Linked DNA regions of Homo sapiens: region 1 is linked to region 2. The links come from fine-mapping of genetic effects on plasma protein levels. A gene starts in region 2. The other region holds a variant in brackets. All regions are shown on one strand. Distances are between the middles of the regions.

The links. PIP is the chance, under the fine-mapping model, that this variant and not a neighbour inherited with it causes the effect. Protein levels are from the aptamer-based SomaScan assay of Sun 2018.
Region 1: its variant is fine-mapped to the plasma level of the CD109 protein (Sun 2018, PIP 0.95).

The regions. Positions count from the first base shown.
Region 1 is chr6:73,736,934-73,747,081 of GRCh38, reverse strand. The region is part of intron 5 of CD109 (CD109 molecule); the gene reads right to left. Among named protein-coding and RNA genes, the nearest start is that of CD109, 46 kb to the right of the region's middle. The variant C/G (reference allele first, on the strand shown) is at 5,530.
Region 2 is chr6:73,681,710-73,697,556 of GRCh38, reverse strand. CD109 (CD109 molecule) reads right to left here and starts at 1,354. Exons shown (of 33, transcript NM_133493.5): 1 at 1,268-1,354; 2 at 1-157. The coding sequence starts at 1,341. CD109-AS1 (CD109 antisense RNA 1) reads left to right here and starts at 1,426. Exons shown (of 2, transcript NR_110889.1): 1 at 1,426-1,725; 2 at 1,982-3,654. RefSeq lists a silencer at 1,185-1,234 and enhancers at 797-1,511, 1,465-1,724.

The DNA of each region.
Region 1 (10,148 bases), 52 kb before region 2:
GACCTTTCCTCTAAAAAGAAGAGAATAAGCATGAGATGGGCACAGGCAACACATGCAAATCTGGCAGAAAAAGTGAAAGAAATTCCCATCTGATGACTGTGTTCTCTGTGAAGTGGAAAGGAAGATAATCTACTGAGTGTGAGGAGGGAGGAATCAGAACCTCCCCAGGAGACAGTTTTGTTCCTGGATCCCTTCTCTCATTAGAAAGGATTACAAATATTCTGGTTCTTATCAAGGCTGGAACTAAACACCTGAAGAACTGAAGCTGGTCTATACCTGACAGTCACTCATAGTGACAGGACTTGGGAATAATGGATCTAACCAATGACCAAGACATAGACCATACAAGCCTCCAGTTAGCAGAATAGTGGCCAGGTATCCAGGGATCACAAGCACATTCATACTCCTAAAACAGTGTTACCATCTGCAGTACAAATACATTATGCAGTACAAGGGACAAACTTGTTTCCTTGGTGTTGAAAAAAAAAAAGTACTAACTAGAAACATATTCTCTTTAAAAACAAACAATAAACAAAAATCACCCATTTAACCCTCTCTGTTCCTACTCAAAGTAGAAGGAACTATGGTTTTTAAAGACATGTAACATGACCACCTTTCTTGGGCACCTATCTCAAGCAAGGGAGCAAAAGCAGCAGCATAGCTACAGGTTTGTACTGAATAGGAAAGTTACCCTTGAGGGAAAATAACTCCATTTCTTGCTCTTTCTCCCTTTCCTCACTCCACCCAGGGACTTGGTACTCATTTCAGTGCCCCCTTCCCCCTCACCCAGGGCTGCCACCACTGGTCAGAGCCCAGTGAGTTATCATTTTCCAAAACTCCCTCTATGCCACTGAAAATAAAGCATCATACAGAACCATACACACATACCACACAAACGTCAAATTCTTGCTTTTTATATTGTACTATAATAACATAAGATATAACCACTGGGTGCACTGCGTTAAGATAATATAGGGCCGCTTTGTGCTATCTTCGCAACTTTCTGTGAATCTACCTAAAGGTAAACAGTTATTTTTAAAATTAATCTTCTTGGCTGAGCACAGTGGCTTATGCCTATAATCCCAGCCCTTTGGAAGGCAGAGGCAGGCGGATCACTTGAGGTCAGAAGTTCAAGACCAGCCTGGCCAATGTGGCGAAACCTTGTCTCTACTAAAAATACAAAAATTTAGCCAGGCGTGGTGGTGGATGCCTGTAATCCCAGTTACTCGGGAGGCTGAGGCAGGTGAATCGCTTGAACCTGGGAGGCGGAGGTTACAGTAAGCCAAGATTGTGCCACTGCACTCCAGCCTGGGTGACACAGCGAGACTCTGTCTCAAAAACAAACAACAAAAAATTAATCTTTGTAAGCCTCATATGACCAAGGTTATAGAGGCTGTGAGGTGACAGCAGCCTAATCCTTAATAGTATATTAATGGATATTAAATAGATGAACCAAGTAACCTACATGCTGGACTCAAATCTTCAATCTAAACACATGGCTGCTGTGGTCAGAATCTGGGACACGTTGGGAACAATCCAACGTGCAAACAAGGTGATCCCGTGGCATCCACAAGTCATATAAAAGAAGTAGGTATCTTCTCCACCAATGCATACAGCAAGCCCTGTTGACATCTAAATTCAACCTTAAAAGGAGGCCATATTAAAACAGCAATTGCTGGCCAGGCATGATGACTCATGCCTGTAATCCCAGCACTTTGGGAGGCCAGGGCGGGCGGATCACCTGAGGTCAAGAGTTCAAGACCAGCCTGGCCAACATGGTGAAACCCTGTCTCTACTAAAAATACAAAAATTAGCCAGGCCCATGGTGGCACATGCCTGTAAATCCCAGCTACTCAGGAGGCTAAGGCAGGAGAATCACTTGAACCTGGGAGGCAGAAGTTGCAGTAAGCTGAGACAGCACCACTGCACTCCAGCCTGGGTGACAGAGCAAGACTCTGTCTCAAAAATAAATAAATAAATAAAACAGCAATTGCTGCACATATTAAATAATTTAATTTTACAGAACTGAAAGTATGAGTAAACTAGTTGCTAGTCCTGACCCTCCCACAACACACTGTGTGAGCCTAACCAGGTCACGTCACTTATCTCAGATTCTTCCTCCATAAAGTGGGGAGATGGATCTAGGCGACCTCTAAGATCATCTATAGCACTGAGTCCCTATCCTATGTACTGATGATGCTACATACTCAGACCCTCCATTTCATTGATGAACACAACATCCTAAAGTCTGGCCCCAAAGTTTTCTAACTGATGCCAAAAACATGTCTCTTCAGAGAGGGGTACAGAAGACACATTTGAAAGGAGGGGTCCTCCTAGGGTGGCTTCTGTAGAGAAAGAACAAAACAAAGAACTCCTCATGAAAATTTGCATATGGGGCCTAGAAATTAAAATGCACACTGCCAAAGGACTGGCACTAGCAGATCAAATGGCTGAATAAAGACACAAGAATAATATGGCACCAAAATTATAAGTCTATTTTAGACTTTATAACAAACTAGAATATTCAGCTCTTGCCTGAGATTTTTTTTAATTTTCAAAATGAGAAAGTCCAGGGCATTAATCCAAAAGTCCTGTTTTCCATTAGCTCACAGGTTCATCAAATACAGCAACCATATATATTCTCAAAATGAAAATATACAAAGATATTTCTACTAAGTTGCAAGATGATATAGCAGAGTGAGACTAGAAGTCAAAGAACATCACAAAGGATAATAACAGCAATCATCTAGAAGAAGCTCTATTCACTCATTCTTTCATCCCACAAGCATGAATGAGTTCCCATAACAGGTCAGATATTATATTAGACAGAACAAATATGAAAATTAATAAAATAGAATTCCTGTCTTCAAGGAGTTCACAGTTTAAGAAATGAGGCAGACATTTTTTTAAATATCTGAAGATAATAATAGGTTCTGGAGATGGATGGTGGCAGATGGTTGCACCACAATGTGAATGCACCTGATGCTACTTAACTTTTAAATTGTTAAAATGGTAAATTTTACATATATATCTTACCACAGTTTTTAAAAAACGAAAATAACGCTACACTGATTAATAAATGCTATTCTAGAGGTGTTTATCGGGGCCTTTGGAAGAATGGAGGAGAAAGTGCTGAGCTCTGCCAGATAATGCTCTAAGAAATCAATATTCTAAAACCATCTCCTCCCTCCCTTTCTCACTGAACAAGGAAGTAAGAGTTTGAGATCCTTCCCAAACAAAGCATTCTTCTTATAAGCAAAGACTAGTGAAAGTATTTTGGAAGCCACAACCACATTTCAGAGAGAATGCCACTGTTTTCTGACCTGTCAAAGTTTTGCTCCATGCTTTCTGTTAAGTTGTCGTCACAAGCCAGGCGGGTTAAGCAGATGCTCCTGGTAGAGTGCTTTAGGGACAAGAACTGTCCAAACAAAGATGTGCTCTTTTGCAAAAGAAAAACGGCTCCAGAGATACTTAACAGAAGCAGCAAGCTGACCCAGGCAGAGGCTGGACAACAAGTCCAGAAAAAATAAGGAATATCCTGAAAGGTTATAAAAAGCAGTAAGGTGTTGGCAACCCTCACCTAATCTAGAAAAAACAAGTAACTCAAGAGAAACTAGATATAACTGTTAGATGCAAAGAAATAACTCAATGCAGATTGCTTCTGAGTTACATAATAATTTGATAACCCGTTTCATTATACAGGGCTCCAGAAGAGTGACTTCAAGCCTTAACCCTGTTGAGTTTTCTGCTTGCTATTTCTTGTTCCCCACCTCTAACAATGGCTTAAGATTGAGACAACGGTTACGAAATTGTAGTTAGTGACAGATAGAAAAGATGATTATCAAGTTCAGTGGTTCCCAAGCTGGCTGTGCATCTGAAGCATCAGAGAAGCTGTTGTAAAGGATATACATTGTCCCAGAAATTCTGACTTAGTATGTCTAAGGTGCTGGGGAGCTCTACTGAGCTGATTACCTAAAAAGGTAAAGTAAATAGCAGAAAGTAGCACTGCTGAGGAATTCAAAGAATAAATCAGATGGCCTGTCCCCAGTTCCATACCTTGTTGACTGCCCAACACTGCCCAACACTGCCTCTCAATGGAAAAGATGGATTCTAAAGATGCCTAGCTGCGGGCATTTATGAGCACTTCTCAAAATGTGGTTCAAAAAACTAGTAGAATTTCCTTGAGTGCTTATTTAAAATTCAAACTCCTAGCTCCCATGCCAAAATTAGTAAATTGTGATCTGGGGGTGGGACCTGGACTATGCATCTTTAAACAAGCTCCCAGTCCATTGATTCTGTGGCACACTGATGTTTCAGAACCAGCTGCAGCCTCAGGTGGCCATTATGGTAAACTCAAATGCCTAAGCCACTCTAGAAAGAAGAAGAGACTTCCATCTGACAATGAGGAAAGACAGCACAGGGCTGCCGTCATCAAATGACCAGGAATCTCTCAGTGACTCAGGCTCTTCTTTCGGGCTCTTGGAGGAACATGAGCACCAGTGCGTGGGTCACGCAAAGACCTGGAGCTCTGGGCTGCAGGCTGCACTGCTCTGGCCAGATGCCTCCTGGCTCCCAGAAGCCTGGTTCTCAGACACCAACATTAGCCTTTCTTTTAAAGAACCCCTAAAATCACCTTCTAATAACCTCGAATATAATTTTTAAATCATAGATGCAAAAACATTCGCAACCAAATGTGGTATATTCACACAATGGAATATTATTCAGCCTTTAAAAGAGAGAAAATTCTGATATATGCTACAACATGGGTGAGCCATAATAACATTATGCTAAGAGAAAAAAGCCAGTCTCAAAAAGAGATCCTGTATGATTCTGCTGATATAAGACTAATCAACACCACAGAGATAGAATGTACAGTGGCTGCCAGGGGCTGGGGGGTGGGAGGGAATGGAGAGTTATTGTTTAATAGGTGTAGATTTTCAGTTTTGCAAGATGAAAAGAGTTACAGAGATGGATGGTGGTGATGAATGCACAACAATATTAATGTACTTAATACCACTGAACTGTACACTTAAAAATGGTTACAATGGCAAATTTTACGTTATGTGTATTTTACTACAGAAAATAAAAAATGGAGGGAAAAACCATTTGCAGGCCAGGCACAGTGGCTCATGCCTGTAATCCTAGCACTTTGGAAACCCAAGGCAAGTGAATCACCTGAGGTCAGGAGTTCGAGCCCAGCCTGACCAACATGGTGAAACCCCATCTCTACTAAAAATACAAAAATTAGCTGAACATGATGGTGCACACCTGTAATCCCAGCTACTCAGGAGGCTGAGGCAGGAAAATCACTTCAACCTGGGAGGTGGAGGTTGCAATGAGCTGAGATTGCACACTGCACTCCAGACTGGTCAACAGAGTGAGACTCTTTCTCAAAAAACAAAACAAAACAAAACAAAAAAACCATGTGCAATTATTTGAGAAAACTGTCAACACCAATCAAGAGATAACATACCTAGAGATAAGGTACCTAGAGAACTATATTGCAAAGAAATGAAAATAAAGGAATGT[C/G]TAACTTTTAAAACACATTATCTTCCTAAGGTGTATTTTCAAGTCAATTATTAAATCAGAACATATTCCCACACTCAACTTATAATGTACCTAAAGTATAACGGCCCTATAAAACACACTTCTATGAAAAGATGTTACAGCTAAAATATACCTCTGCCCTCTGAGAGGAGGGCTTGGTGCTCTAGACAAAGAAATGATGAAAAAGAGCAGGGCAATCAAAGTATGGCAGAAGTAGAAGACTTGGTCACATTCTCAAGAGAAGAAGTACAATCCCCAAAGTAGCAAAGAACTATTCACACTAGAATATGTGTGTCAATTAAGCACACGTATAAGTAGCACAAAAAGAGCCAGGGCTCTTACTAAACTTTACTGATTTTAAGAGGTCTTAAACATTATAATCATCAAGAGTTTCTTTGCAATTTGATTAAACTAGCATTGTAAAAAAAAAAAAAGTCTATGTATATATTGAGAACTTATGATGTCCCACCATCATATGCTGAACAATGACAGAGATAAAACATAAGATGGAAAACCAAGGTGGCAGGGTAGAGAGAACCTTGGATTTGGTGTCAAAAGGCCTGAGTTCTAATCCTAGTTTGGTAAGTTGTGGGACATTGGGCAAATCACTTAACTAATCCCCCAAAACATTTGTTTCCTTTCTTGGCCAGGCACAGTGGCTCATGCCTGTAATCCCAGCACTTTGGGAGGCCGAGTAGGGTGCATCACTTGAGGTCTGGAGTTCAAGACCACCCTGGCCAACATGATGAAACCGTCTCTACTAAAAATACAAAAATTAGCTGGGCATGGTGGTGCATGCCTGTAATCCCAGCTACTCAGGAGGCTGAGGCAGGAGAATCGCTTGAACCTGGGATGTGGAGGTTTCAGTGAGCCGAGATCACACCACGGCCTGGGCAAAAGAGCGAGACTCTGTCTCGAAAAAAAAAAAAAAGAAAGAAAGAAAAGAAAACTAGAAATCATACTAGACCAAAATAATTACTCACCATTACTATCATAAAAAACCTTGAAGGTGAAAAGCAATACAATACTTGAAGGGCAAACAATTTAGATTAATCCAGAAAGGTTAACACGGTATCATAAAGGACTTATTCACTCTTACTCTACAAACAAACATGTTATTAATACAAGTGGAGAAATGCCAAGGAGCCGTCAAGTATGTTTTACTTAAAGGATCCTTTTCCTGACCTAGGACAAAGGGTAACTGAAGAATACCACTTTCTGATTACCTGTATAGTCATTACAAATCAAAGCTCTGATAACTCCGGTAATTCTTAAAGAGATTGTCCATCAGTGGGAATACTCATATCATTCCATATTTTTTCTACAGACAAAATGGAATTTCAAAACTCTCCCAAAGGCTGTGTATGATGGCTCACACATGTAATCCCAGCACTTTGTGAGGCCAAGGCAGAAGGATTGCTTGAGTCCAGGAGCTCAAGATCAGCCTGGGCAACATAACAAGACCCTGTCTCTATGAAAAGGAAAAAAAAATTTTTTAACTAGGCAGGCGTAGTGGCACATACCTGTAGTCCCTGCTACTCAGGAGGCTGAGGCAGGAGGATCACTTGAGCCCAGGAGTTCGAGGCTGCAGTGAACTATGATTGTGCCACTTCACTCTAGCCTGAGTGACAGACGACAACCCTGTCTCTTACAAATTAAAAAATTTAAAAAATACTTCCTTTTTTTTTAGCCAGAGTATCACTCTGTCGCCCAGGCTGGAGAGCGGTGGCATGATCTTGGCTCACTGCAAGCTCCGCCTCCCAGGTTCACGCCATTCTCCTGCCTCAGCCTCCCGAGTAGCTGGGACTACAGGCGCCCGCCACCACACCCAGCTAATTTTTCGTATTTTTAGTAGAGACGGGGTTTCACTGTATTAGCCAAGATGGTCTCGGTCTCCTGACCTCGTGATCCGCCCGCCTCGGCTTCCCAAAGTGCTGGGATTACAGGTGTGAGCCACCACGCCCAGCCAATACTTTCTTGAAAATAAATATTTTCCTTCCCTGAGTTTTATATTGAGAATGGTGACTGCCACCGAAAAGTAAAAATATAGTCTCTAATGGTGGGCTATTTAAATAATAAATACATTTCCTCTATGTTATTATTCACTACTAAAAGAAAAGGGGTTTAATAACAAGAAATATACAGTCCTTTAATGCTGCGCAGTAGTCAAAGAAAAACAAAAGCCAGAGACCAAGGCCACAGTTGCTTCTCATAACATTTCCTTGGTTATACTGACCCCTGGTGGTTCTAAAAGGGCTCTTTTTTTTAAGGGGCTTATTTTTTCTTAGCTGAATGCCTCAAATTAACATACCTCAAATGACAAGTACCTGATCAGTATACTTGTCTTCAAAAAGATAAAGATGCTTTATAGAATATACAAAAGGGAAAATTGCATTTGGTTCAAGACAAATTATTGCTATATAGTTTTCACACATTCGTTTTAAGAAAATACTGCTTTCTACTTACATGCAAAAGCACTGAACTTGGTCCCAGGAATAGAGAGGTGAGCAAGACCAGAAGGTCACCAGCTTTACAAAGGCTACTGTCTATCATGGACCACTAATTAAAAGTGAGATGAATGAATTAAGGGAAGCACACAGTACTATGGGAATGTCTGGAACAGCCAGGCCACTTTAGAGAATGGCTGCAGGTTAAAAGCAAGTAGCGAGAATAAGGAAGAAAAAACATTCTCAGCAGAGGGAACAGCATGATGAAAGGCTCTAGAATGAGACAGATCGGTGAGTTTAAGAAACTTAAGGGACATAAGATGTCTAAAGCATAGAGTTCAAGAGGAAGGGCGGCACTTTACAAGACTGAAAAGTTGGGCAAGGGCCAGATCCTGCAAATGCTTTTCATTTTTTAAGCACCTAAATTTCCTTAAGAGCATTTGTTTTCTATAAAAGCAATATGACAAGCCAAGTCCACAAACCACAACATGATAAATCCTATAAATCTTTCAAAGTATAATCTCACATCTTCTGCAAAGTCTCCCTCTGCTATTCTATCCCCCTCTCTTCTGGTACTTATTCTGTCCACCATTCAATGAACAAATTAATCCCTCAGCGCCTGTTATCCAGCTAAAACTGCTCTTGCTGGTCATTGTGCATAGGTGGCATCTGAATGGACCAAAAATGGACACCTTGACCCAGGGCGGCCCACCCACAGGCTGCCAGCCACCTGTGCAGAGGCTTGCTTTAAAGATTCTGGGCATGATGGTTATTTAGCTAAGCTAATGGAATCAGAAGAACTGAAGAACACCTCAAAGGTTGGCAGAAGAGTGAAAGGAGAACAGAGCAGACCATGGGAGACAGAAGGAGCAGCTGGCCCCAAAACATCAGTGCTTGTGCTAACAATAAACCCTCTTTATCACCAAGCTGGACTGAACACCTTACAATTCCTCTGCTATTGCACTGCCCTGTGTTTGTCTGTCCCCCTTATGTCATTTAATTTTTATCATATTGTTCATGTCACCATGACAATGACCTTTGAAAATGGAGGTCATATGTTTACCTTCTTTGTATTCATCACAGCCATAAAGTCCTTAACACATACTGGGTTGGTGGGTGGGTGGGTGGATAGAAGGATCGATGGATGGATGGACCAAAAAAAGTGATTCTTAAGAATTTAAGTGGGAACTGAAAATAATATTCAAACTACTTTAAACTCACAACGTGCTTCCTAATCTACACCGCCATCATTCTCCACATGCTCCAGTAACATCAACTTCTCCCAAATCCCCAGACACATAACGTTCTCTTCCATTTTCCCTACTCCCACACAAATTTTTCCCTATTTTCTAAGTTTCACAAATGCCTACTCTTTCCACTTTCTCTACAAGCTCAGATATAAAGAATTCCACTTCCCCTAGAACTCATCACATCCTGCTCTAGGCTGCCATTTATAACAGTGGTTATTATTACACTGTTATAAGTAAGGAAATAAGCAAAGACCTCACTGAAAATTGTCCATGACTTTAATGGTTATGCATTACATTGTTCTCTAACAGTATGAGCCCCTTTCATAATATTGCCTCAAATGTTCTTTAAAACCACATCATACATTCATTCGGTAGAGCTTCTGCTACCTTAAAAAGAATAATATTGGTAAACACATCATACAAACACCCATAAAGATGCAGGGTGGCCATGAAGCAAATATTGAGAGTCCATTGTGCCTCCAGCACTGTTCTCATTCATACAGGTCAATTCACACACGAGTCCCACCTACTCAAGGCTCAGCAACAATGCTTAGAATAAGCTACAATTTCATGCATTTCATATTACATATCTTCCCCTTTAGATACAGAAAAAGTTGATTATATCTTATATGTTTATATGTCACATAAATATAGAAAAATATAAAGGTTTACATGTTATATACTAAATGACCAATTTATATCACATAAAACAGTTAAGTCTCATTGCTTTTTAAAATTGTTTCCATCCCATTGTGTTTATGTCTCATTCATTCCAATGAATGCCCCCCATTTAGATTTATATGCCATTTAATGCCCTCCATTTAGATTTCAGAGCTATACAAGTTGGCAGCAAGTAAAGGCAATAGGTGTAGAAGCTAGGGAAAAAGGATTGGGGAATAGCAGT
Region 2 (15,847 bases):
TTCTGCTTCCAGGACAGAGACAGTGAGGTTTGATGCTGTCTTGAGCAGCTCCGCCTTCACAGTCACCTGTGAAGGGCAGTGTTCCAGAAGCTCCACCCCAATAGTCACATTTCCTCCGGGCCTGATGATCCCTGGGGCTGTCACCAGAAACCGAGGCCTAAAGAGTTCCCAACAAGGGAAAAACAAAGTTTCTTATCCTCACATCTCCTTTCTTTTGTGACCCTCAGATTTCCTAGTGCGATAGGCACTCCATACTGCGCCAATTGCAGTTGTTTCCGTTAACATTGCCCACTGCTCTATTTGGCAACTGAATTGAAATGCTACTGAAACAACAATAATTCCCATAAATCAATTTTAATGCAGTAATTCATGCATCACTACTAGAGGAAGGCCTGTGTTATTATTTCCATTTTATAAACCACGAACCGCACAGAAGGAACCATGATGTAAATGGCTTGCACCGGGGCATAATGGAGTTATTGGCAAAGCAAAAGTCTCTAAGCTTCTCCTTTACAGAGGACCTTATCCCAGCGTGATTATTTTCTTGTTGTTGTTGTTATTTTTTAACTAAGATTTTGCCTGTTTCTTATTCAAACCTTTATCCTTGAGTAGCTGCCCAACGAGGGTAAAAAATTATTTAACCAATACCATTGATTGAAATATACCATTTGAAAATAAACTACAACTGGTGAAAATTCCAGGTATAGCGAATCATAAAAGAAGTCACTAAAGCAGCACTTTCTCTGCTATAACTAGGGGTTAGGGCTCAACTACAGAAATCTTTAGGAATGAATGGGGCTTGCCATTATTGGGTGCTGTTGTTTTCTTCCTATAATGTCTGCCCCTGAACCCATACATCAGTCCCCTCCGCCACACTTTGGCAATGCTAAGGTTGAGACATCTTGGTTAGAAAAAATATATCATGTCTTTGAGAGAAGAATCGCAATCTGGGAGCAAAAAGTTGAGAAGCAAAAGGCAGAGGCAATGTGGACTAAAAATAAAATGACTCTCTTCAGAAAGTTGTTATGGCCGGGGAGACGCTTAAACAACTTCATGAGTGGAGAAAGTTAACTGTCCCATGGAGAGCCACGCTGAAGCTACATATGGTCAAACCTCCAGGCCAGTACCAGGCTGGGGACTGCAGCCGCGAGGGCATTTCCCACCCGCTGCTGCACAGCAGCCGCCACCTCCCCGAAGCCCTGGCCCAGAGCCGCAGAGCGGCCCAGGCCCGCGCGCCCGCGCGCCCCCCGCGCGCCCACGTTCCTACCCGGGAGCCACGGCCAGCGCGGCGGTGCACACGCAGAGGAGGTGGGCGGCGGTCAGGAGCGGTGGGCCCTGCATCTCGACGGCGTCTGCCTGGGCTACAGTCCGCTGCCGGGGAAGTTCGCGGGCACCGTGGGGTGTGGCTTGCCACCTCCTCCCTGATTTTTTTTCCCTCTTAATTCGAGTTTAGTAATCTGAAATGGGCGCGCCTAACAGCAGAGTGAGAGATCTAAATTGAGACAGGACTTGGAGGCTCCACCCCTCCCATCCCCATTACAATGGCGCTTCTCGCTGCTGTGGCAAACATCGCAAATCCAGGGGGTGAGAAAGCAGTTGCTAAACGCAGGCGGCCCCACCTGGCCCGGCGTCCCAGCTGGCCGCGGAGAACAGAGCGCGCCCACTTCCCCGGCCCACCGGGTTCCTCAGGCTGTTTACACTAGCGCTCTACCAACGATGCCCAGGGTGAGTAAACAGGCCCATCCTTGTGAGGAGAAATTCATAGCAACTATGTGAAGTGGAAAAAAGTCAATCATTGTCCTCCAGACTATGAGTCAGAATTTTAGAGAAACGGCACACACACACACGCACACACACACGCACGCACACGCGCGCAAAACCGGGGCGTATTTCCTGGGTAGTTATTTAATGTATATGAATGGAAACAGAAAAACTATTTTTCCTTAAAACAAAAAATGAGGTCTACTGCTTTCCTTTCCAGGAAAATGTTATGATTTATCACCTTAAAAAAAAAAAGAAGAAGAGAACTCGCACTGCAGACGTTAGGTGTTGCTACTTGGAACCCTGAAAAAAAATTACCTAAGAAGATGCCTTTATATTTTTGCTACAGAAAGAATTTGGTAGAACTGTAAAGCTTGGAGCAATCTCTGAACACAGTTAGGGTTGGGTTGGCTCTCCTGTCAGAATGAAGGCCAGTGGCCGGTGGTGCCCAGGAGTTATTGATGCCCAACGCTGTCTGGCTTCTTTGCAGCTCCTCTCTCCTGCTCTCTGGCACTGCCACCATCTTCAGATGACTCAGGTTTCACCATGACTACACCATAAAAGCAGGGAACTGCCAGAAACTGTTGGAAAACAGACACATTCAGTCCCTGACAACTTAAACTTTCTAATTCATGGAGCGGTTTTAGATGGTAGCATTCTAATATGGGGCAAAATGCAAACGGAAAAGAGGTCAGCAAAAAGATGTCTCATGACAAAGCTATGTGCTAAATAAGGAAAAGTGAGAAAGTAGCACCTAGACAAACTGTGGTTTGGGGAATCCAGAAACTTGCTTTCCTCCCTTTCCTGTTCCACCCTTTTTCTCCCTGCTGAACAGCTTGCAAAGGTCCTTATGTCCTTTCCTTCAGGCAGCCTATCTTTAGTGGCCAACTTCCTGTGCAGGCAGGACTTAGGAATGGTCAAAAGTGTCTGTGTGGATCCCTGGGTGCTGACCTGTTCCTGACACAGCTGTTACTACTGGTCTCCTCACCTCCGTTGTTCAGAGAGGAGGACCATGGTCAAGGGTGGGCCAAGCACCAAGGTCTAACTCAGTGCTTCTCACATGCCAATGTGTGTGAGAATCACATGAAAACAGACTCTGACTTGGCAGGTCTGGAACGAGGACTGGGATTCTGCTTTACTTTAGCAGACAGTAGGCCATGGAGACTCTACAAGTGGGGGCAATTTGGGGGCAATTTGATGAGCAAAGGCAATTAAGAACACAGAAAATTCTTCTCAATCTTTCACTTCATAAAGGTGGATTAATAAATTCAGGTTCATTCTAGAGGTAGGCAAACATAAGAGGGACTGCAAAAGATTAGATGATAATGTTGCCTCCCGAGAAGACTTACAGAAAGTCTTAGAACCACATTGTATAAATCTGTGTGGATTTTAAAGTGATGCCACCTTCCTGTTTATGCCCTCCTTCCCACAATACACACTTGTCGAAAGGCGTAGTCATGCAAAAATTTAGGCATATGGATTTGCATAGAGATGAGGCTATTACATGCCTGGCACAGAGTAGCTATTCAATAAAAATGTGTTAAAAGGATTAATGAAAAATGTTCATCTCAGAAGTGGGATTTTTTATTAAGAAAAACTGAAAATGAGGCCAGGCGTGGTGGTTCACACCTGTAATCCCAGTAATTTGGGAGACCGAGGCGGGTGGATCACCTAAGGTCACGAGTTCGAGACCAACCTGACCAACATTGTGAAACCCCATCTCTACTAAAAATACAAAATTAGCCAAGTGTGGATGGTGGCACATGCCTGTAATCCGAGCTACTCAGGAGACTGAGGCAAGAGAATTGCTTGAACCTGGGCGTTGGAGGTTGCAGTGAGCCGAGATCGCAGAATTGCTCTCCAGCCTGGGCAACAAGAGCAAAACTCCGTCTCAAAAAAAAAAAGAAAAGAAAAGAAAGAAAAGAAAAAAGAAACACTGAAAATGGGCCGGGCATGGTGGCTTATGCCTGTAATCCCAACATTTTGGGAGGCTGAGGAAGGCAAATCACTTGAGGGCAGGAGTTCAAGACCAGCCTGGCCAAAATGGTGAAACCCTGTCTCTACTAAAAATACAAAAATTAGCCCAGCATGGTGGCACATACCTGTAATAAAAGCTACTCAGGAGGCTGTGGCATGACAATCACTTGAACCCAGGAGGTGGAGGCTGCAGTGAGCCAAGATGGTGCCACTGCACTCCAGTCTGGGTGACAGAGCAAGACTCTGTCTCAAAAGAAAAACTGAAAATGGTCTGAACATGTAACAATAAGATATTGGGTTTGCTGTCATTTGGATGTTTGTCGCCCAAAGCTGATGCTGAAATTTGATCCCCAGTGTTGGAGGTAGAGCACAATGTGAGATGTTTGGGTTCTGTGGGTGGATCCTCATGAATAGATGAATGTCCTCCCTGGGGGTCGGGGGGTGAGTGAGTACTCAGTTCCCACAAGAATTGGTTGTTAAAAAGAGCCTGGCACCTCCTGCTTCTCTTGTTTCCTCTCTCACCATGGGATCTCTGCACACTAGCTCCCCTTCCCCTTCCACATGAGTGGAAGCAGCCTGAGGACCTCACCAGAAGCCAAGCAAATGCCAATGTCATGCTTCTTGAACAGCCTGCAGAATTGTAAGCCAAGTAAACTTTTTTTTTTAATAAATTACCCAGCCTTGGGTACTACCTTATAGCAACACAAAACAGACAAAAACAGGATTAAATAAATTACAGTATATCCATGCAATGGAATACTGAAATAATTAAAAACTATTTGTTTAATTGGAGCTTGTTTAACCATCTAGAGACAAATATTCATATGTTATTAAGGAGGGTATATTAGTCTGTTCTCACCCTGCTAATAAAGACATACCTGAGACTGGGTAATTTATAAAGGAAAGAGATTTAATTGATTCACAGTTCCACATGGCTGGGAGGCCTCACAATTATGGTGGAAGGCGAATGTGGAGCAAAGTCAAGTCTTACATGGTGGCAGGCAAGAGAGCATATGTAGGGGAACTCCCCTTTATAAAACCATCATATTTCGTGAAATTTATTCACTATCACAAGAAAAGCATGGGAAAGACCCACCCCCAAAATTGAATTACATCCCACTGGGTCCCTCCCGTGACATGTGGGAATTATGAGAGCTGCAATTCAAGATGAGATTTGGGTGGGGACACAGCCAAACCATATCAGAGGGGAAGTCTGTTTTATAAAACAGAATTTAAATTTCATTTTATTTTTATAAAAAATAAAGTGTATTTATGTGTACATAGACATTACAGATCTATGCACTGAAGAAAGACTTGAAGGATATTCACCAAAATGCTATTATCAGTATCCTGGTGATTACCTGGATATGCCAAGTTTCCTACAATAAATATATATTATATCTCCTTTAAGAAGAAAACAATAATAATATTATTTTAGTAAATAGTTTTTGAGGGGGCATCTTAGAAGCTCTTTTGCATAAAACTTCTGAATTTTGATACCAAAAATATCATCTATGCTTATTGCATGAAAACCTAATGGTCTCTTGGATAAGAACCCCACACTGTTCCTGTGTCCCTCCTGAGCTGTCTTTAAGGTGTTGATATGGTTTGGATCTGTGTCCCTGCCCAGATCTTATGTCAAATCCCCAATTTCGGAGGTGGGGCCTGGTAGGAGGTGATTGAATCATGGGGGCAGATTTCCCCCGTGGTGCTGTTCTTGCGATAGTGAATCTTCATGAGATCTGGTTGTTTAAAAGTATGTGGCACCTCCCCCCACCTCTTTTGGTCCTTCTCCTGCCATGTAAGATACCACGAGCCCATACATCAGCCCCTTCTGCCATACTTTGGCAATGTTAAAGTTGAGACCATGAGTAAAAGCTCCCTGAGGCCTCCCTAGAAGCAGATGCTGACATGCTTCCTATATAGCCTGTGGAACTGTGAGCCAATTAAACTTCTTTTCTTTATAAGTTACCCAGTCTCAGGTGTTACTTTATAGCAATGCAAGAACAGAGTAATTCAATGAGAAAGGCAGAACCACTATGAGTGAGACAGACCCTAAGCAATCATGGGAGCTGGTAGGGCAGTTTGTGCAAACCATTGCCCCTGTGTGTGGTGTGCAGCATAACATAACTATGAGTCAGCCAGGGGAGAAAAGCTAAATGTGGGTAAGAATAAAGAAAAACTGATTGAGAAGTGGAACCCATGTCCATCTTACCACCTCCAACTTCCATGTCATGAGTAACCTGCAGGAGAAGCTGGTGTCCTTTGTCCAGAGCTTCATGTACATTTGGCCCACAATTCAGAAAAACTGAAGGAAGAGAGCCTCTGAGAACTAAAGGAGCTACAGGCCTGACTGTGGCCCTGAACCCACAAAGTGAACTGGCACATTAGTAACAGTATGGACAAGTGTTCCCAACTGCCTAGCACTCTAAACCAAGCTTCAGAAAGTAAAAAATACAGGTGTATGGGGTACCCCACCTCCCCTTTATAGTCTGCTCTGTCCATAACACCAGCTGGAGGCTTTCCTGGGGCCACCTGAGTCCAGGCCCCAATCAGATGGACATTGGAAGGGGTGAGACCAGGACTGGCAGGGAGCAGTTAGTTGCCTTTCTAGTCTCCCTCCCTAGCCATGCACTTTTGCCTTTAGAAAAATGATGGGGAAAACCTTGGCTCCTTCTTTGTCCAGAAAGTGTTAATTGCCTGTGGGTTCTGGTGGCCGGGGAGAAGAGCAGGAAAGCAGAGAGCAGGTGGGTGGCTGAAAGGGAAGAGGGGAGGAACACGGCAGAAACATGAAGGTGACCCTATCTATTCCCCTGGAGAAGGGGTGAGAGGTCAGGTAGAGTAGCTGCTCAGTACACAAAATGTAGAAAGATGATGAGAAAAAAAAATCTGCTACAGTCTTACCACTACCCAGAGACAAGCATTATTTCATTTTGTTGTGTTTCCTTCCTCTCTTTCTTTCTCCACATAATTTGCTGGTATCTTTTTTAAAGAGTAATTATGTTATAAATATAATACAACTTTGTGCTTTGTGTCCTACTTTTCCCATTTAATTATTCCATCATAAGCATTTCCTCATGTTTTACAAACCTTTTTTAAATAAAATGTTCATCAGCTGCAGCCGGGCACGGTGGCTCACGCCTGTAATCCCAGCACTTGGGAGGCCGAGGCGGGCAGATCACCTGAGGTCAGGAGTTTGAGACCAGCCTGACCAACATGGAGAAACCCCGTATCTACTAAAAATACAAAATTAGCAAGGCGTGGTGGCACATGCCTGTAATCCCAGCTACTCAGGAGGCTGAGGCAGGAGAATCTCTTGAACCTGGGAGGCGGAGGTTGCGGTGAGCCGAGATCACACCACTGCACTCCAGCCTGGACAACAAGAGCGAAACTCCGTCTCAAAAAAACAAACAAAAAAAATGTTTATCACCTGCATAATAAAACAAACAAAAGGAATAAAAACATTTTCAGAAATGGAATGGCTCAGAAACTTCGCCTTTCACAAATTCATTTTAGGAAGTTACTTTAGGAAGACATATTTAGCAACGAAGTGAAATAAGCCAAGAAAAAGGGAAATGTATATATAACCCCAGAAAAAAATGAAGAGAGAACTTCTAATAGGAAAAATTCCAGGAGTAAGCTCTTAAGGGAAATAAAAGGGATCTTAATCGAATAGATGTACATAATGAAATACAAGAAAACTGAGACTATGATAAAGTAAAATAGTGCAGTAAAAAGGAAGGGAATTTAGAAATTCAAGGGAAAAGCAAACACTGAATAAAAAAGAATATATCATGATTCATTAGTTGGCTTTGCAGTGAAAAATAATTAGTTGTGTTGATGTAAGTATGGTTTACTGATTTATAACAGAATAAAAGAATTGACAAAGAAGATTTAATTACACTGTTTCACCATTTCTAAAATATATGTTTTTCACATTTGTAACATTTCTGATCTTATAATCAATGGTATCATAATAATAATTGACAATAAATTTTCTTTCTTGGTATTAAAGTAAGTGGTGTATCTTAGATTTGATGAAATATGTGAAATACACAATGTTTACAAAACAATGTAAATGGTGTTAATACTTGAAAAGAGCACAGATGACAAAAACTTACAAAGTCAAAGAGGGATGAAGAATTAAAGCATTGACTGAGACACTAAGAGCCTTATAAAGTAAAAAAAAAAAATGTGTCTACAGTTTTCTTGGATCAAGAAATATGTCATAAGCATATTAAGACTATAAAGTAGTGTAAGGATATAAGAAAAACTGAACCAAAGTGGTTTTCCCACTTTTATACACTCAATATAACACACTGGCCACCAAAATGCATAGAAGAGCTTCTCCCATGCTGACCAAGCAATCAATTCTCTGGCAGATTCTACAGCAGACTCAGCTGAGCATCCTCTAAGTCAATTCAATCCCAACACAAACTACCTGGAAATAGCAGCAGATCCCCTAGGTTGAGGGTTCCTTCCCATAAGACTGCCCCCAACCTTAGATGCCAATCACAAACTCAGGTTGTGACCTGTGCTTCTGATCCAACAGCTATAAATTGGGGTTCCCACAATCCCATCCTTGGGTTTGGTTAATTTGCTAGAGCAGCTCACAGAACTCAGGGAAACTATGTTTCCCAGTTTATTAATAAAGGGTATAATAAATGACCTCTGCCAATTCTAGTTTGGAAGTTGAAAGATGTCGCCCAATGGAATAATTTATAAACTAATTAATTAATTAACAGAAGCAGCTGGGCTTGGTGGCTCATGCCTGTAATCCCAGCACTTTGGGAGGCCAAGGCAGGAGTACTGCTTGAGCTCAGGAGTTCGAGACCAGCCTGGGCAACATAGCAAAACCTTGTCTCTACTAAAAATCAAAAAAATTAGCCAGATGTGGTGGTGCGTGGCTGTAGTCCCAGCTACTTAGGAAGCTGAGGTAGGAAGATCACTTGAGTCTGGGAGATTGAGGCTGCAGTGAGCTTGATTACACCGCTGCACTCCAGCCTGAGTGACAGAAGGAGACCCTGTCTCAAAAAAAAAAAAAAAAAAAAAAAAAACAAAGAAAAACTCTCAGAACCCTATAATCCAGGAATTTTTATGGAAGCTTCATCAAGTAGAAATAATTATTAATGCCATTTCCAGCCCTTCTCCCCTCTCCAGAGGATGAGGGTGCACTAGAAGTTCCAGGCTTCTAATCATAGCTTGGTCTTTCTGGTGACCAGCCTCTATCCAGCAGCCTACCAAGAGTTACCTCATTAGTACAAAAGACTCTCTCATCGCACAGAAAATTCCAAGGGATTTAGGAGCTCTGTGTCAGATGCTAACACTTAGGAAATTACAAATGTCTTTGGAGCTCTGTGTCAGGAACCAGAGCAGAGACCAAATATTAGAACAAAAGATTCTCCTAGCACCCCTATCTAACAGAGTATTAAGAACTCTGTTTCAAGAACCAGAGCAGAAACCAAACATTAGAATGAAAGATTCTCCTAGCACTCCTATTGCTCAGGAAACTACAAGAGTTTTAAGAACTCTGTGCCAGGGACTGGGGGGCAGAGACCAATATGTGTATTTTTTATTGCACAACAGCCAATTAGAAATTAAAATACTAATATATTATCATAAATAGTAAAAGCAAAGGTATGTTTTCCAAAAAAAATCTACCAGACAAAAAGAAATCACAATTAATTTGAGTTCTTACAAAGTTTCTAGTGTTCTTCTAGTGCATGATTTTAATTACTATATTTTGAACAGCAAAGTACTATCTGGGGAAGATACATTAATCTGAGATGACATCTGCCAATGCCAGTTGGGAGTTTCTCACCTAATGGGACAATTTGTAAACTTATTAATCTATTAATAAGCAAAGAAACAACCTCAAAATCACACCAACAATAAACTTTTGCTTCAGATCCCAAGTTTGCAGGCCAGCTGAGGCAGTTCCCACTTTGTGTTTCTCCTTTTCCTTGGAACAGTAGTCTGGGAAAAGCACGTCCTTCTTGCGGTCATGGTAGAAGCACAAGAGAACAAGCCCCACTGCTCAAGCACATTTTAGGTCCCTGTTTACTTGACATCTGTGAAGATCCTGTTGCCCAGAGCAAGTTTCATGGTCAAGGACCAAGTCAAGGATGGGTAGAATACTCCACCTTTTGGTTAGAGGAACTGCAAACTTAATTATGTGGGAAAGGATATGGATGGGAGAAAATTGGGACAAATAATTCAATCTACCACAGACAGTTAGCAAAATTTGCCAAAAGCTGTGTTCTGTTCATCAAGACAATGTTTCCATGAAGGACAATTAGCCTATCAAGGAAGGAAGGAAAGAAGGGGAGGAGAGGGAAGGAGAGGGGAGGGGAGGGTAGGGAAGGGGAGGGGGAAAGGAAGAAGGGAAGAGAGAGAGCATGCATGTGAAAGAAGGAAGGAAGGAGAGAGAGGAGAAAGAGAAAGAAAGAGGAAGGAAAGAAAGACTGAAGGGAGGAAGGAGTATCCAATGTCTAAAATCATGCATGGTTTTTTTTAGTTATTCACTTTTGGAGGATGCTGCAATATGAACTCATTAAAGGTAAAGAATTAACCTTTATCCTGCCTTTCCTACGTGAACTGATCACTGGGTAACCAAATAGTAGATATGAGGGATTTCTCTCTATAGTTTTCCAACTAATAAATGTAAAATTAATGTTAGAATAGCACCATATCACTACTCTTTGTGAATTAATAGATCTAGACCAATGCTGTCCAATAGAACTTTCTGTGATGATGGAAATGTTCTGTATCTTATACAGTAGCTATAACCAACATGAATTTATTTAGCATTTGAAATGTGACTGATAGGCCAGGTGCAGTGGCTCACATCTATAATCCCAACACTTTGGGAGACCCAGGCGGGTGGATCACTTGAGGTCAGGAGTTCAACACCAGCCTGGCCAACATGGTGAAACCACATCTCTACTAAAAATACAAAAATTAGCTGGGCATGGCAGCAGGCACCTGTAATCCCAGCTACTCAGGAGGCTGAGGCAGAAGAATCACTTGAACCCGGGAGGCGGAGTTTGCAGTGAGCTGAGATTGTGCCACTACATTCCAGCCTGGGCAACACAGAAAGACTCTGTCTCAAAAAAAGAAAGAAAGAGAGAGGACTGATATAACTGAGAAATTGAATTTTTAATTTAATTTAATTTAATTTATATTTTTAAGTAGCCACATGTGGCTAATAGCTACCACATTGGATTGTATAGACTCAGCAGTGATCATAAATGGCTGCTAATATCACAAAGGGAGATATTCAGATACTATATGCCGCCCAGTAGAACAAAGCACCACCTAAGAAGTGGTCTTGCCAAAAATTCTAAACTGAATCTGATTAAATTTCTAGATTTAAATGCCAATTTGCAAGGAAATGTGAAGGAACGTATTAAACATCACACAGATGTATTAGCAAAATTCAGACTGTGCAAAACACTATCAAACAAATAATCCAATTCCTTCAACAAATAAATTTCAAGGAAAAATAGAGAGGACATCAACAAGATGCTGGAATAGGAGTTTCCAGGGCTCATCCCCTCAGAGACACATCAATTTGAACAGCCATCCACACACAAGAGTACCTTCACCAGTGCTGAGGACTCCAGGTGAGAGATTACAGCACCTAGTTGGAGCACAGAAACAATAAAAGACACATTGAAGAAGGTAGGAAAGACAGTTTCACATTACTCAAGTTACCCCTTTCCCAAGCCTACTCAGCACAGCATAGCACAGAGAGAGAAAAGCCCACAGCTAATATCATGCAAAATGGTCAAAAGCTGAAAGCTTATCCTTTAAGATCAGGAATAAGACAAGAATGCATACTCTCATCACCTTCACTCCATATAGTACTACAAGTCCTAGCCAGAGCAATTAGCAAAGAAAAAGAAATACAAAGACATCCAAATCAGAAAGGAAATAGTAAAATTGTCTCTGTTTGCAAAGATGACATGATCTTATATATTTTCAGAAACCTGATGTAACTCAGGAATGGAAAACCAAATACTGTATGTTTTCACCTATAAGTGAAAGCTAAGCTATGAGGATGCAAAGGGATAAGAATGATATAATGGACTTTGGGGACTTGAGGGGATGGACAACAGAGGGTAAGGGATAAAAGACTACATATTGGATACAGTGTGTGCACTGCTTGTATGACAAAATCTCAGAATTATCACCACTAAAGAACTTATTCATGTGACCAAAAACCGCCTGTACCCCAAAAACTATTGAAATAAAATTTTTTAAAAATTGTTTAATTTTTTTAAACCCTAAGGATTCCATACAAAAAAAAAGTTAGAACTAATAAATTCATTGATGTTGTATGATACAAAATCCACAAACATTGATCTAGACAATGTTTTTTTGCATATAACACCAAAAGCACAGGCAACAAAAGCAAAAATAGACAACTGGGATTGCATCAAACTAAAAAGCTTCTGGAAAAAAAAATCATCAGAGTAAACAGACAACCTATTGAATAGGAGAAAATATTTGCAAACCATATATCTAGTTAGTAAGGGGCTTATATCCAGAATATATAAGGAACTCAAACTACTCAATAACAAGAAAACAACCCAATAAAGAAATGGACAAAGCAGGCTAGGCACAGTGGCTCATGCCTATAATCCCAGCACTTTGGGAGGCTGAGGCGGGTGGATCATGAGGGCAAGAGATCAAGACCATCCTGGCCAACACAGTGAAACCCCGTCTCCACTAAAAAATGCAAAAATTAGCTGTGCCTGTAGTCCCAGCTACTCGGGAGGCTGAGGCAGGAAAATCACTTGAACCTGGGAGGTGGAGGTTGCAGTGAGCCAAGATCATGCCACTACACTCCATCCTTTTGAGATTCCACCTCAAAAAAAAAAAAAGAAAAAAAAATGGGCAAAGCAAGAATTTGAGACCACATAGGCAAAATAGTAGGACTTTTGTCTGTACCAAAAATAAAACTAAAAAGACTAGCCAGACATGGTAGCGTGGTCCCAGCTACTCAGGAGGCTGAGGCAAGAGGATCACTTGAGCCCAGGAGTTTGAGGTTACCGTGAGCTATGATTGTACCACTGCACTCCAGCCCAGGTGACAGAGTAAGATCCTGTCTCTAAAAAAGAGGGGAAGGGGGAGGAATTGAGTAAACATTTCTCAAAAGAAGACATATAAAATGGCCAACAGGTACATGAAAAAATGTTCAATACCACTAATCATCAGGGAAATGCAAATCAATACCAAAGAGATATCACCTTATACCTGTTAAAATGGATATCATCAAAAAAAGACAAAAGTTGGCCAGGTGCAGTGGCTCACACCCATAATCCCAGCACTTTGGGAGGCTGAGGCAGGTGAATCGCTTGAGCCCAGGACTTTGAGACCAGCCTGAACAACATGGCAAAACCTCATCTCCCCAAAAAAATACAAAAATTAGCCAGGAGTGGTGGCACTCAGCTGTAGTCCCAGCTACTTGGGAGATTGAAGTGGGAGGATCATCTGAGCCTGAGAAGCCAAGCTTGCAATGAGCCAAGACTGCATCACTGCACTCCAGCCTGGGTGACAGAGCAAGACCCTGTCTCAAAAAAAAAAAAAAAAGAAAGAACGACAAAAGAAAAGAGAAAACAATACAGAGGCTCCTCAAAAAATTAAAAATAGAACTACTGTATGATCCAGCAATCACATTTCTCAATATATATCAAAAACAACTGAAATTAGTATCAAAGAGAGATCCATACTCCCATGTTCATTGCACCATTGTTCACAATAGCCAAGCTATGATATCAATCTAAATGCCCATCAACAGATAAATAGTGATATGGTTTGGCTGTGTCCCCACCCAAATCTCATCTTGAATTGTAACTCCCACAGTTTCCAAGTGTCATGGGAGGAACCTAGTGGGAGGTAATTGAATCATGGGAGCAGGTCTTTCCCATGCTGTTCTAATGATAGTGAATAAATCTCATGAGATCTGGTGGTTTTAAAAATGGGAGTTCCACTGCACAAGCTCTCTCTCTTTGCCTGCTGCCATCCATGTAAGATGTGACTTGCTCCTCCTTGCCTTCCACCATGATTATGAGGCTTCCCCAACCACATGGAACTGTAAGTCCATTAAACCTCTTTCTTTTGTAAATTGCCCAGTCTCGGGTATGTCTTTATCAGCAGTGTGAAAACGGACTAATACAGTAAATTGGTACCAGTAGAGTGGGCACTGCTGAAAAGGTACCCAAAAATGTTGAAGTGACTTTGGAAATGGGTAACAGGCAGAGGTCAGAACAGTTTGGAGGGCTCAGAAGAAGACAGGAAAATGTGGGAACGTTTGGAACTTCCTAGAGACTTGTTGAATGGCTTTGACCAAAATATTGATAGTGATATGCACAATGAAATCCAGGCTGAGGTGGTCTCAGACTGAGATGAGGAGCTTGTTGGGAACTGGAGCAAAGGTGATTCTCGTTATGTTTTGGCAAAGAGACTGGTGGCATTTTGTCCCTGCCCTAGAGATTTCTGGAAATTTGAACTAGAGAGAGATGATTTAGGGTATCTGGTGGAAGAAATTTCTAAGCAGCAAAGCATTCAAGAGGTGACTTGGGTGCTGTTAAAGGCTTTCAGTTTCAAAAGCGATACAGAGCATAGAAGTTTGGAAAATGTGCAGCCTGACAATGCAATAGAAAAGCAAATCCCATTTTCTGAGGAGAAATTCAAACCAGCTGCAGAAATTTGCATAAGTAATGAGGAGCTGAATGTTAATCACCAAGACAATGGGGAAAATGTCTCCAGGGCATGTCAGAGAACTTTGCAGCAGCCCCTCCCATCACAGGCCTGGAAGCTTAGGAGGAAAAAGTGATTTCATGGGCTGGGCCCAGGGTCCCTGTGCTGTGTGCAGCCTAGGGACTTGGTGCCCTGTGTCCCAGCCACTCTAGCAGTGGCTAAAAGGGGCCAATGTAGAGCTCGGGCCGTGGTTTCAGAGGGTGCAAGCCTCAGCCTTGGCAGCTTCCATGTGGTGTTCAGCCTGCAGGTGCACAGAAGTCAAGAATTAAGGCTTGGGAAAGATTTCAGAAGATGTATAAAAATGCCTGGATGCCCAGGCAGAAGTTTGCTGTAGGGGTAGTGTCCTCATGGAGAACCTCTGCTAGGGCAAGAACCTCTGAAGGGAAATGGGGGATGGGAGCCCCCACACAGATTCCCTACTGGGTCACTGCCTAGTGGAGCTGTGAGAAGAGGGCCACGTCCTCCAGACCCCAGAATGGTAGATCCACCCACAGCTTGCACTGTGTGCCTGGAAAAGCTGCAGACACTCAACATCATCCAGTGAAAGCAGCCAAGAGGAAGGCTGTACCCTGCAAAGCCACAGGAGCGGAACTGCCCAAGACCATGGGAACCCACCTCTTTCATCAGCATGACCTGGATGTGAGACATGGAGTCAAAGGAAATCATTCTGAACTTTTAAGATTTGACTGCCCCACTAGATTTTGGACTTGCATGGGACGTGTAGCCCCTTTGTTTTGGCCAATTTCTCCAATTTGGAATGGCTGTATTTACCCAATGCCTGTACCTCCATTGTATCTAGGAAGCAACTAACCTGCTTTTGATTTTACAGGTTCAGAGGCAGAAGGGACTTGCTTCATCTCATATGAGACTTGGGACTGCGGACTTTTGAGTTAATGCTGAAGTGAGTTAAGACTTTAGGGGACTGTTGGGAAGGCATGACTGGTTTTGAAATGAGATTTGGGAGGGGCCGGGGTGGAATGATATGGTTTTGCTGTGTCCCAAACCATACCTCATCTTGAATTCCCACATGTTGTGGGAGAGTCCTGGTAGGAGGTAATTGAATCATGGCAGGGGGGATCTTTCCCATGCTGTTCTCATGATAGTGAATAAGTCTCATGAGATCTAATGGTTTTTAAAATCGGAATTTCCAGCCAGGTGCGGTGGCTCAGACCTGTAATCCCAGCACTTTGGGAGGCTAAGGTGGGCAGATCACCTGAGGTCAGGAGTTTGACCTCAGCCTGGCCAACATGGTGAAACCCCATCTCTACTAAAAATATAAAAATTAGCCAGGTGTGGTGGTGTGCACCTGTAATCCCAGCTACTCAGGAGTCTGAGACAGGAG